Linked DNA regions of Homo sapiens: region 1 is linked to region 2. Evidence: fine-mapped expression QTL. Tissue or cell type: whole blood. Region 2 holds a variant in brackets; the other region holds the start of a gene. Each region is shown on its reference strand, or each on the opposite one. Region 1 holds the start of CERS2 (ceramide synthase 2). Region 2 has its middle 43 kb from the start of PLAGL1.

Region 1 (5,238 bases), not on the chromosome of region 2:
GGGCAGGCAAAGTAGGCACTAGAGCATGGTCAAGGACAGACACCTGGGCAGTGCAACTTCCTCATCCCCAAGATGAGATAGCGCCTGTCCTCTTCCACTCCAAGCAGGGAGAGTGGAAGACTTGGGAAATGCAGATTAATGGGGGCTTTTACACTGAGGTTGCAGGCTTCCCATGACCACAGCCCTCCCTGGTGGTCCTGCACCTCCATTAGCAGAGAGGCACTACCCCCATCTCCCCAGCAGGGAGGCCCCAGATTCAGCAGGGTCAGGACCTCTGACTCAACATGAAGAGAGGGGAGGACAGCTGGGGCCTGGCCGGCCTCACTTACACATCCCCACAGAACCAAAGAGTTGGGTCCCTGTGGCAGTACTGGGGAGGCCTCTTAGCACCAGCACACAGATCCAAGCAAGACCCCATAAACAAGAGGCTGGGGCAAGAAAAGCTGAAGTGTACACACGGTAAGGAGACAACCCTGTTTTTCCAGGCCCCCTGGGCCTTCAGGGCAGTTACTTGACTTCTTATGGAGAAAATCACATCTAGAAACACTTTTCCACCCAGACTTCACTCCCCCATACACATGAAGAGACATGGTATCTGTCTACGCTCTCTCTCACACACACCTGCCTTGGAGGCACAGATGCCACTTTCTGAGGCACAGGCTGGAGAGGGGCCAGAAGAGCAGGGATTTAACTGGCATTAGATTAGCAGGAACTTGAGCAGGACTCTGTCCAGCCCCAACCTTTGCCCCAACTCTGACTGACACCCCCACAAGACCCCTCTAGGTGGATGAAAGGAGCAGAGGATCCCCATGGGAGTTTGTAGATCCAAACGGCTGAGAAGGCAGAAGTTTCGGCCTGAGAGGAAGGAATTCTCTCAGACTCCAGGTGGTCAGTCTGACTGGCTCTCATAGTTTGGAAGAATAACTGAGGAAAATAGAAAGGAGTTGTTGACAAGGGAGGAGTGACAAAGGTCCCACCGGCTCCCTGCTTCCACTGAAGAAGTCCTGAATAGTCTTCCTTGTTGAAAACTTTCAGGCAACAGAAGCAGGTCATGTACTAGAAGTCTACAAGCCATGGATGGAGCCAATGAGAGGTGTGTTATCCCTCCAGGCTGCAGGATGGGCCTCAAAATAAGCCAGATTGTAAAAAAGAGGTGGGTGAGAGGCAGTCAGAACAGTAGTCCTCAGCCTCATCTGGCCTACAGCTTGTCTGCAAAGTCCCACCAAAGGCCTCCACGGACCAAAACACTGCATGAGACTATGGCCCCAGGGGCAGGGAGACGCCGGTGGGTTTGAGAGACAGCTGGGGCGGTGTTGAAGGACACAGTGAGGGATCAGCCAGCCTATGGCCAGTGACAGGGGTAAAAGGAGGCCCTTCCTCCCAGGGGAAAATCTGGCCAGAGGCCCCAGTGAGGGAAGTGGGGGACCAGGGGAGAAAAGGATCCCTCTCTGGAACAGACTGTGCAGATCACGGTATGGTCAGCGCCAGGTCCTCAGGGACAGGACTGCAGGCAAGTCCTTACCCTTAGGAGCCCCTTTACATGTGCAGCCACTCACACCCCGGTGCGGTCATCCCGACTCCGGTATGCGGCAGCAACCGCCACCCACCCCTGCCCCAGCACAGATATGGGGGTGACTGCCTGCTGGAGGCCTGCTCGGACTCACTTCTCCAGGAACAGGGGCTCACTGCATTCGCCACGATCCTCAGAACCCCCTGAACCTGGGCCTGGCAACTCAGGTGACTGAAACCAGGTTTTGATGCCAGGAGCTAGGCTTAGGGAGGGAGAGACTCCAACTGCAGGCTAAAGATGAGTGCTCTACACCTGCAGTCAACCCACTTGCCACGGGCCTCTAGTGATTAACAAGCTACGGCCCAGAAAGCCAGTTCCACCAGGAGCTCCCTTGCCAGCCATCCACACCTCATAACGGTATGCCTTAGCCCTACCGGGCCGGGGCAGGCGCTCCGGGCCGCTCCTTCCTGTTTCCCGTTAAGCACATGGAAGCTCTGACCTCGCCTGCGAGGTGGGCACGGTGGGCCGGTAGGAAGAAAACGGGGCAGGGCCCTCCCCTCTCCTCCCACCCAAGCCACAGGACGCGTCCAGGCCAGGGCAACCCCGCGGGCCGCTGCCAGGGTGGAGGCTCTCGCGCCAATGGTCACCAAGCTCCTCCACTCCCCAACAAAGGGAAGCCCACGGCTCGGCCCCGTCGCCCGCAGCCCCCGCGTCCCCACCTTCCGCCCTACCTGTTGCCCGGGAAAGCTTCTCCGGCTCAGGGCGGCGCTGCCGCGGACACCGCGGCGCCAGGCCCGCCGGCCCCGGCCGCTCCCTTGAGGCGCTGCGCCCGCCTTACCCGGCGGCCGCCGCCATGAGCGCCCGCAGCGCCCCCCGCCAGCGCCGCCTCCCTCCTCGCCCCGGCCCCGCGGCCTTCCCAGCCCGACCCCTCCGCGGCCCCGCGACAAAGCGGCACCCGGGGCTCCCAACTTTTCCGCAGCCCCTTCCCACCCCCGCGCGGGGCTCGGGCGCCGGGCGGGGGCCCCGACTCACCCGGCGGCAGCGTTGGCGGGGCCGGGGCCGCTGCTCCGTGTACTCCGTCTGCTCGGGTGGTTGCTCCGAGGCCCCGAGGCCTGGCTCCCCGCGCCTCTCCTCCCTCTTCCGCCCGCCCGCCGGCCCGCGCCCGCCCTCGCCCTCCCTCCTCCGCCAGCCGCCGGCGCCGCCGCCGCCGCCCGCCGAGCCCAGTCGAGCTGAGCCCGAGCCCAGCCGGGAAAAAAAGGCCGCGAGCAGCCCAAGGGCCGGGAGGCTGGGCGTGACGGGAGGGGAGGGCGGGGCGGGCCTCTGCGCTGCGGCTGCCCCTTCGCCCCGGCGCGGGAGGCCAGACCCCAACCCTCCGCTCCCGGCCCCACAGCCGCGTCCACGCCCGTCACCTTGCGCTAGAGAAACCGCCGACCTGGGGAGGCGGGTGCGGGCTCCTTCCGCCACTTCGGTCTCTTTTCGGGGTGGGAGGTCTCCCACTGGGACCGACACAGACGCACTGGATGCCGCGGGGTCCCGGGCTCCGAGCGGCGGTGTCCCTGTCCCCTTACTCCTACCCACCCCCACCCACCCCCAACTGCTGTGCGGCCCCCGGTCCCCGCCAGGGTGGGCACATTCCCACTTCCAGCCCCACGGGGCGCGGGCGGAGGAGGGTGCAGCCCGGGGATCCTGCCCAAGTGCCTCGCGCCGAAGCTGAAAACCTCTCCAGGGCAGACCGAAGCAGCCGACCCTCGAGACCCAGTCGGAGCCTGCGATCACTCGGGCGACCCTCGCCTACCCCGCCGTAAAAGCCGCGGCCTTTCCACCTAGGTGCTACGGGACCTACCCCCGTGGCAAGGAAGAGCAAACCCGAACTTGCGCACACCCGGCGGCCCTGTCTGAAAGAGCCACCCCAACTTTTGTTTTGTAAAATGTATGAGTTTTCAAATGACACCACGTTTATCCGTATTCGATTTCGTGTTAAAAAGTGTTTTCCGGCCGGGCGCGGTGGCTCACGCCTGTAATCCCAGCACTTTGGGAGGCCGAGGCGGGCAGATCACCTGAGGTCAGGCGTTCGAGACCACCCTGGCCAACATGGTTAAACCCTGTCTCTACTAAAAATACAAAAATTAGCCGGGCACGGTGGCTCGCGCTTGTAATCCCAGCTACTCGGGAGGCTGAGCCACGAGAATCGCTTGAACCCTGGAGGTGGAGTTTGCAGTGAGCCGAGATCTCGCCACTGCACTCCAGCCTGGGCGACAGAGTGAGACTCCGTCTCAGGAAAAAAAAAAAAAAAGTGTTCTCCCCTTGGCCTGGCGCCGTGGCTTATGCCTGTAATCTCAGCACTTTGGGTGGCCGAGGTGGGCAGATCACTTGAGGTCAGAGTTCAAGACCAGCCTGGTCAACATAGCGAGACCCCCAACTCCTTTATAAATTTAAAAAAAAAAAGTTTTCCCCTTGAGTCGTGTGGTAAAATTACTGTTTCAGAAGTAATTACTGTTGGAAGATGCAACATGGTTTTCCTAGAAAGCTGGTCTTAACTCCTAACGTGAACGAGTGGTGACTAAGATGTATTTGAGGGCTCCTATACAGGGAGAGCTGCAGCTTACTCCATGGAGAGGTACTTTTGTCAAATTTCTCACCTAGATGAAGTATTGCCTTTTTTATGCTGTTGCAATCAGAGCCTCTGACAGTAGCTTGTTTCCCCGTTTATCTGGTCAAGTACTCGTAGGAAGGAGTGCAACCCCCACTAATCCAGTTGGAGGGCCCATCCCTCATCTCAGGCCCTTTCTGGAGGGTAAGGAGGTAGAGGCTGTCCGACCCAACTGTTTGTTCTGCCTCTCTTTTCAGGGGGACCCGCAGCCCTGACACACCATGGGAAAGATGAGAGTGGTGGCCCCTAACCAGCTCCCAGGGTTTCTCTAGGCTTTTCTAAGCCCCAGGCCTGCCTGATCTCCCAGTTTCCAGCAACCCCTCCAGCTGTGTTTTTCTCCTCCCTCCCTTATTAGCATATCTTCCATTGTATCTTTCTTTCCTTTCTTTTTTTTTTTTTTCCTTTGGAGAGGAGGTCTCACTCTGTCACTGCAGCCTCGACCTTCCAGGCTCAAGCTATCCTCCACCTCAGCCTCCCAAGTAGCAGGGACCACAGGCGACGCCACCATGCCCGGCTAATTTTTGTATTTTTGAGATTTCACCATGTCGCTCACGCTGGTCGTGAACTCCTGAGCTCAAACCATCCACCCGCCTTGGCCTTTCAAAGTGCTGGGATTACAAGCATGAGCCACCTTGCATCCCAATTGTCTCTTTCTACCCCCTTGGAACTCTCCTCCTTCAGCCTTCTAATTCCAAAGTTCCCTCTTCCTTTCTTCAGTGCTCTCCCCAGAGTCCTTATCTGCTACACACCTACACACCTTTTTTCCAGCATAGTTCCAGGGCTCTTTGGGCCGCAGCTCACCTTCGGGTCTCTAACACTCTCCACACCTCCGTCCTATTCATCTTCCTTCTTTTAGTTCTGAATCCCTTTCTTGTGGTTTTCCTAAGTGCCAGGCTTTCCTGTAGTCCCTACCAGACTTTTCAAATGCTTCCTCAGGAGAACTGAAGACTGGTTAACTTTTTTTTCTTTTTTTTAAGATAGCAGTGGGGAGGGGAAGTTCTGGGGCAGAAGTTGGATAACCAGGGCCTGAGAAATAAAGATAAGAGGGTATATTCCTCCCCCAGGAGACAAAAGAGAA
Region 2 (5,238 bases):
GCATATTTTCCAAACTTCTATGCTCTGCTTCCCTTTTAAATCCAAATTCCAATTTCAAACCATCTCTTTGTGAATGCATAAGATTGAATGCTTTCAAAATCAACCAGGTCACCTCTTGAATGCTTTGCTGCTTAGAAATTTCTTTTGCCAGTTACCCTAAATAATCTCTCTCAAGTTCAAAGTTGCACAGATCTCTAGGGCAGGGGCAAAATGCCACCAGTCTCTTTGCTAAAGCATAGCAAATGTGACCTTTGCTCCAGTTCCCAAGACTTTCCTTATCTTCATCTGAGACCACCTCAGCCTGTACTTCATTGTCCACATCATTAACTGCATTTTGGTCAAAACCATTCAACAAGTCTCTAGAAAGTTCCAAACTTTCCCACAACTTCCTGTCCTCTTCTGGGCCCTCCAATCTGTTCCAACCTCTGCCTGTTACCCAGTTCCAAAGTTGCTTCCTCATTTTTAAGTATCTTTATAGCAATACCCCACTACCTTGGTATCAATTAACTGTGTTAGTCAGTTTTCACTTTGCTATAAAGAAATACCTCAGATGGGTAATTTATAAAGGAAAGAGATGTAATTGACTCACAGTTCTGCACGGCTAGGGAGGCATCAGGAAACTTACAATCATGGTGGAAAGCAAAGAGGAAGCAAGCTTGGACCTTCTCACATGGAAGCAGGGGAAGAGTGAGGAGTGAAGGGGAAAGAGCCTCTTATGAAACCATCAGATCTTGTGAGAACTCACTCACTATCATGAGAACAGCATGGGGAAAACTGGCCCCATGATCTAATTGCCTCCCACCAGGTCTCTCCCTAGACATGTAGGGATTATGGGGATTACAATTTCAAGATGAGATTTGGGTGGGGACACAAAGCCTAATTATGTCACTCTATTACTAGTCCCATTTTTCAAATAAAAAACTGAGACACATGGAGGTTTGATAACTGTGTGACATACTTAGAAGGTGGCTCCAAAGCCAAGGTTTTTATCCTTCGTGCTGCGTAGCTTCTGATCATGAGGGAGAGGATAAATTGAGTAAGCAGGGTCCAACAGTGCACAAGACAGGTCTGGACTAAGATCCTTCGAAGCTGGAGAAGTGGAGGGGAGGAAAGGTGCAGATGCGAAAAATGGCAGAAGGGGGAAAGGGTGAATGGGAGGGAAGCCATTCACAATTTAGAGCCTCGGCTTTTTGAATGAAGTAGGAGAGTAGTTATTTTTCATGAAAGCAAGTAAGGGTGCTTACTTTGAGTTTAACTCAAAATATTTATGTGTCTGGTGAGTTTTGAGGGAAATTGAGACCACCTAAGGGAACAAGAGATTCACATTGCCCAGAACGTACTCATTCCAGGACAATACACCCACTGTGTGACATGCTAGGGGCAACCTCCTGTGCTAATTATTGTTCTTTTATTTCCCCTTGAAATCGACTGCTGAACTCAACTAAGTGAAATATGTCCATAACACAATGCTGCCAGAAGGTCTTTGATACCAGCAACCAGGGCTTGCTCGGCTTTCCTGCCCAAATCCCTTCTCAGAGCATTTTTATCGCTCATATGTTATTCTCTTTTCTTCTGTCTGAGGAGAGAAAGATTCTTCTACACTCTTTTAAGGCTGTCTCTTCTCTATGTTTATGTCTCTATTATTACATTATAGGCTTATTCTAGGGAATAAATATCTTATTCCTGCCTTGCAAAGAATAAGCACATGATATTTATACACATCTCTGTGTCAGGTGCAGTGGCTCATGTCTATAATCCCAGCACTTTGGGAGGCCAAGGCAGGAGGATCACTTGAGGCCAGGAGTTTGAGACCAACCTGGGAAACATAGTGAGACCCTGTTTCTACAAAAAAAAATTTTTTTTTAAGTAAATCAGGTGTGGTGGCACATGCCTGTTGTCCCAGCTACTCAAGAGGCTGAGGTGGCAGGATCACTTGAGTCTGTGAGTTTCAGGCTGTAGTAAACTACAATTGTGCCACCACACTCCAACCTAGGTGACAAAGCAAGACCCTGTCTCAAAAACAAAACAAAGCCAAAAACCTTAGGGAACTGTATCTGTTACTCTTTTATTACCAATAATATCTTCAGGCAAAATCTGCTGACAAACATTTATAAATTAAATGTAAAAATAAAATCTTAAATCAGCTTTAAAATAAGTCAGTA[C/T]ATGATATGTAACAACTCTAAATCAGCTTTAACAGTTTGTAATATGTAACAACTTAAAATCTAGACACCTACAGACTATCAGATAATGTCTAGGAAATCACCTCAATTACGTACTTTCTCTAAGTTTTCTATATATCACACAATTAAATTACAATAAATTTCAGAAAACAATGAATCCACTCAATACAGGAAACCACAATAAGCAAAAGTGCAGGACACAGGGAAACCAATAACTGCAACATGTATGTGCTTAATGGAAAAAGATCCATTCAGGCATATATTTAGATGCCAAACAGCTTCTCCTAGCACTTTCCTCACACTAATTCTACTTTATTGCTTTGAATCCTTTTGGTAAACAACACCCACCATGCATGAGGCACACACATACAATCAAATAACAACTAAGGACAATCATTTACTCCTGTTTTTTTCACAAATGATATCTTATTGGATGCCCTTTAAACCAATATGTTTCAAATGTTTTTACCAAACCAACACTAAGAAAAACATTTCATGTTGCAACCAAGTTCAAACATATTGTATTAGTCCTCTTTCATGCTGCTGATAAAGACATATCATAACTATGATAGATAAGACTGGGAAGAAAGAGAGGTTTAATGGACTTACAGTTCCACATTGCTGGAGAGGCCTCACAATCATGGTAGAAAACGAGGAGGAGCAAGTCATGTCTTACATGAATGGTGGCAGGCAAGAGAGAGCTTGTGCAGGGGAACTCTCATTTTTAAAACCATCAGATCTCATGAGACTCATTCACTATCATGAGAATAGTGCAGGAAAGACCCTCCCCCATAATTTAATCACCTCCCACTGGGTTACTCCCACGACATGTGGGAATTGTGGGAGTTACAATTCAAGATGAAATTTGGGTGGGGACACAGCCAAACCATATCACATATATTCATGAATTACAGTTTAATCTAACAATATTTACCTTACCACTCATGATGCACTGTGAGATTTATTTTTATTTTTACTGGTTTCATTTTACCAAATTAAAACTTAAGAGTTTGAAAAATACTGCTCCAATTACTTTACTCAGATACTATTTTTAATGACATGATCCTAGGTTGCTATTCAGAAAAATAAATATTTGTCCTAAGATCAGAAAAGAAGGTAAGTGATCCTGACAGATAGTATATATGTCCTTCATTCAATATGGCAAGGAAAAGAGCACATGGCAAGGAAAAGACTACCACCAAAGAAGGAGCAATCAGTCAATCAATCAATCAATCAATCAACCAAGGCAGATAGAACATTTTTGCTGATATTCAATAAGGGTCCTTTAGAATTATGTGAGGCAGTGTGATACAAAGAATAGAGCACTGAATTTAAAATGTGGATACTTAGTTCAAGCCCCAGTTCTACCACTTTGGGCAAGACATTTTGTAGAGATCTAATTTTTCTCATCCATAATGAACATGGGGCAGGGACTCTATCTCCTGTCTAGCACTCTACTCCCAGAGCCTAAACAGTGCTTGACATCTAATAGATGTTGTTAAACAAATGAATGGATGAATATATATCTTGTTCATATGGTTGCAAACAGGATGTCAAACAAATGCTTGATTTTTAAAAATTCAGTCTGAAATAATTGGGGACTCAATATGCTGGCAGCTTCACACTATGCTGATTAAGCACTTTTCTCTTTCCACAACTACTAAACCAAAAAAAGAAAAAAAAATGTGGGGGAGGGGGTTGTGGAGGGACTGATTTTCTGTATTTTTCCTTTTCCAACAACTAGTTCTTATGAAAAGAAATTCTATCAACAATGTGTTTAAATTCTCCACATCCAGGATATATGCAACATTGGTGCCCTCTTAGAACAAAAATGTAAAAAATTGAACTACTCCTTGTTTCAACATTTAAGCCATTTAATTCTTTCTTGGTATCATGAACTGAGAAGACTGAAGGGGGTCACAGAAAAAAATTATACTCACAATACTATATTTTTTCAGGTTAGCACCAATACTTGTAAATGCTTTGATAAACAAGGATGAAATTATTTATTTTAACTGATGCTCAACCATATTGGGTCATCCTTATCAGCTACAACCACACATTGCCAAAATCAATCAATCAATCATTTTTTTTGAAATGGTCTCACTCTGTCGCCCAGGCTGGAGTGCAGTGGCGCAATTTTGGCTTACTGCAACCTCTGCCTCCCGGGTTCAAGCAATTCTCCTGCCTCAGTCTCCTGAGTACCTGGGATTACAGGCATGCACCATCATGCCGAGCTAATTTTTGTATTTTTAGTGGAGACAGGGTTTCACCATGTTAGCCAGGCTGGTCTGAAACTCCTGACCTCAGGTGATCAGCCACGATGGCCTCCCAAATTGCTGGTGTTACAGGCGTGAGCCACCACACCCGGCCTAATTAGTCATTAATTCTTGAGTAGTTCATTCAAGTATAACATCTTGCTACCACCTATGAGGGATACAAAAGGTCCCAGTGCTTGCCATCTTAACATGATTTATCATGAAACTATTCAATAACTGTGCAAAATACTATTTGATTAAATATGATGGACAGTACAGACAATAAGTCCCTACAGGACTTATTTGGATAAAAAGGAAAATACTACCTTCATAAAGAAACTTACCACCTAAAAGTTTAGGCTTCGGGGATGGCAAATACATGGAAAATGATCAGCTGTCTTCCTCATCCTCTAGTAACTATGTCAGGCCAGTTACTGATCACGGTATTCTTGCCCAGTGAACATAGTTATAACCTCGAGATCCTTATCAGCACATCCTTCTAGGCAGCTACAATAAAATATGATGAAACTTATTTGTCATCTCTGGGCTCAGCCTCTTTAAGAAGCTGCAGGAAAGTCTTTGATTATATTAATTATCACATGAATCCTGTCAAAGTACATACCAAGAAGAACACCATCAACTTCAAAATCCATCAGGAAAGGGATATTCATTTCTCTATATGGTCTAACAAATGATACTATTTAACTCTAGGTCTTAACTTACTTATGTCAAATGACAATTGTACCTATAAATCCAATAAAGTGCTTTATAATTATAAAGTCTCATTCTATAACATACCA

Evidence for each region. PIP is the estimated chance that this variant, and not a neighbour inherited with it, causes the effect.
Region 1: CERS2 starts here. The variant in region 2 is the best candidate, but not a certain one, in a credible set for the expression of CERS2 in whole blood (TOPMed, PIP 0.70).

Annotation. Positions count from the first base shown.
Region 1 is chr1:150,972,077-150,977,314 of GRCh38, forward strand. It overlaps CERS2 (ceramide synthase 2), which reads right to left and starts at 2,759. Exons shown (of 11, transcript NM_022075.5): 1 at 2,543-2,759. It also overlaps a transcript of ANXA9 not described here. RefSeq lists enhancers at 977-1,908, 1,866-2,010, 4,909-5,238, cis regulatory regions at 1,938, 4,769-5,238 and silencers at 2,114-2,603, 2,624-3,063.
Region 2 is chr6:144,048,881-144,054,118 of GRCh38, forward strand. It overlaps a transcript of PLAGL1 not described here. Among named protein-coding and RNA genes, the nearest start is that of PLAGL1, 43 kb to the left of the region's middle. The variant C/T (reference allele first, on the strand shown) is at 2,163.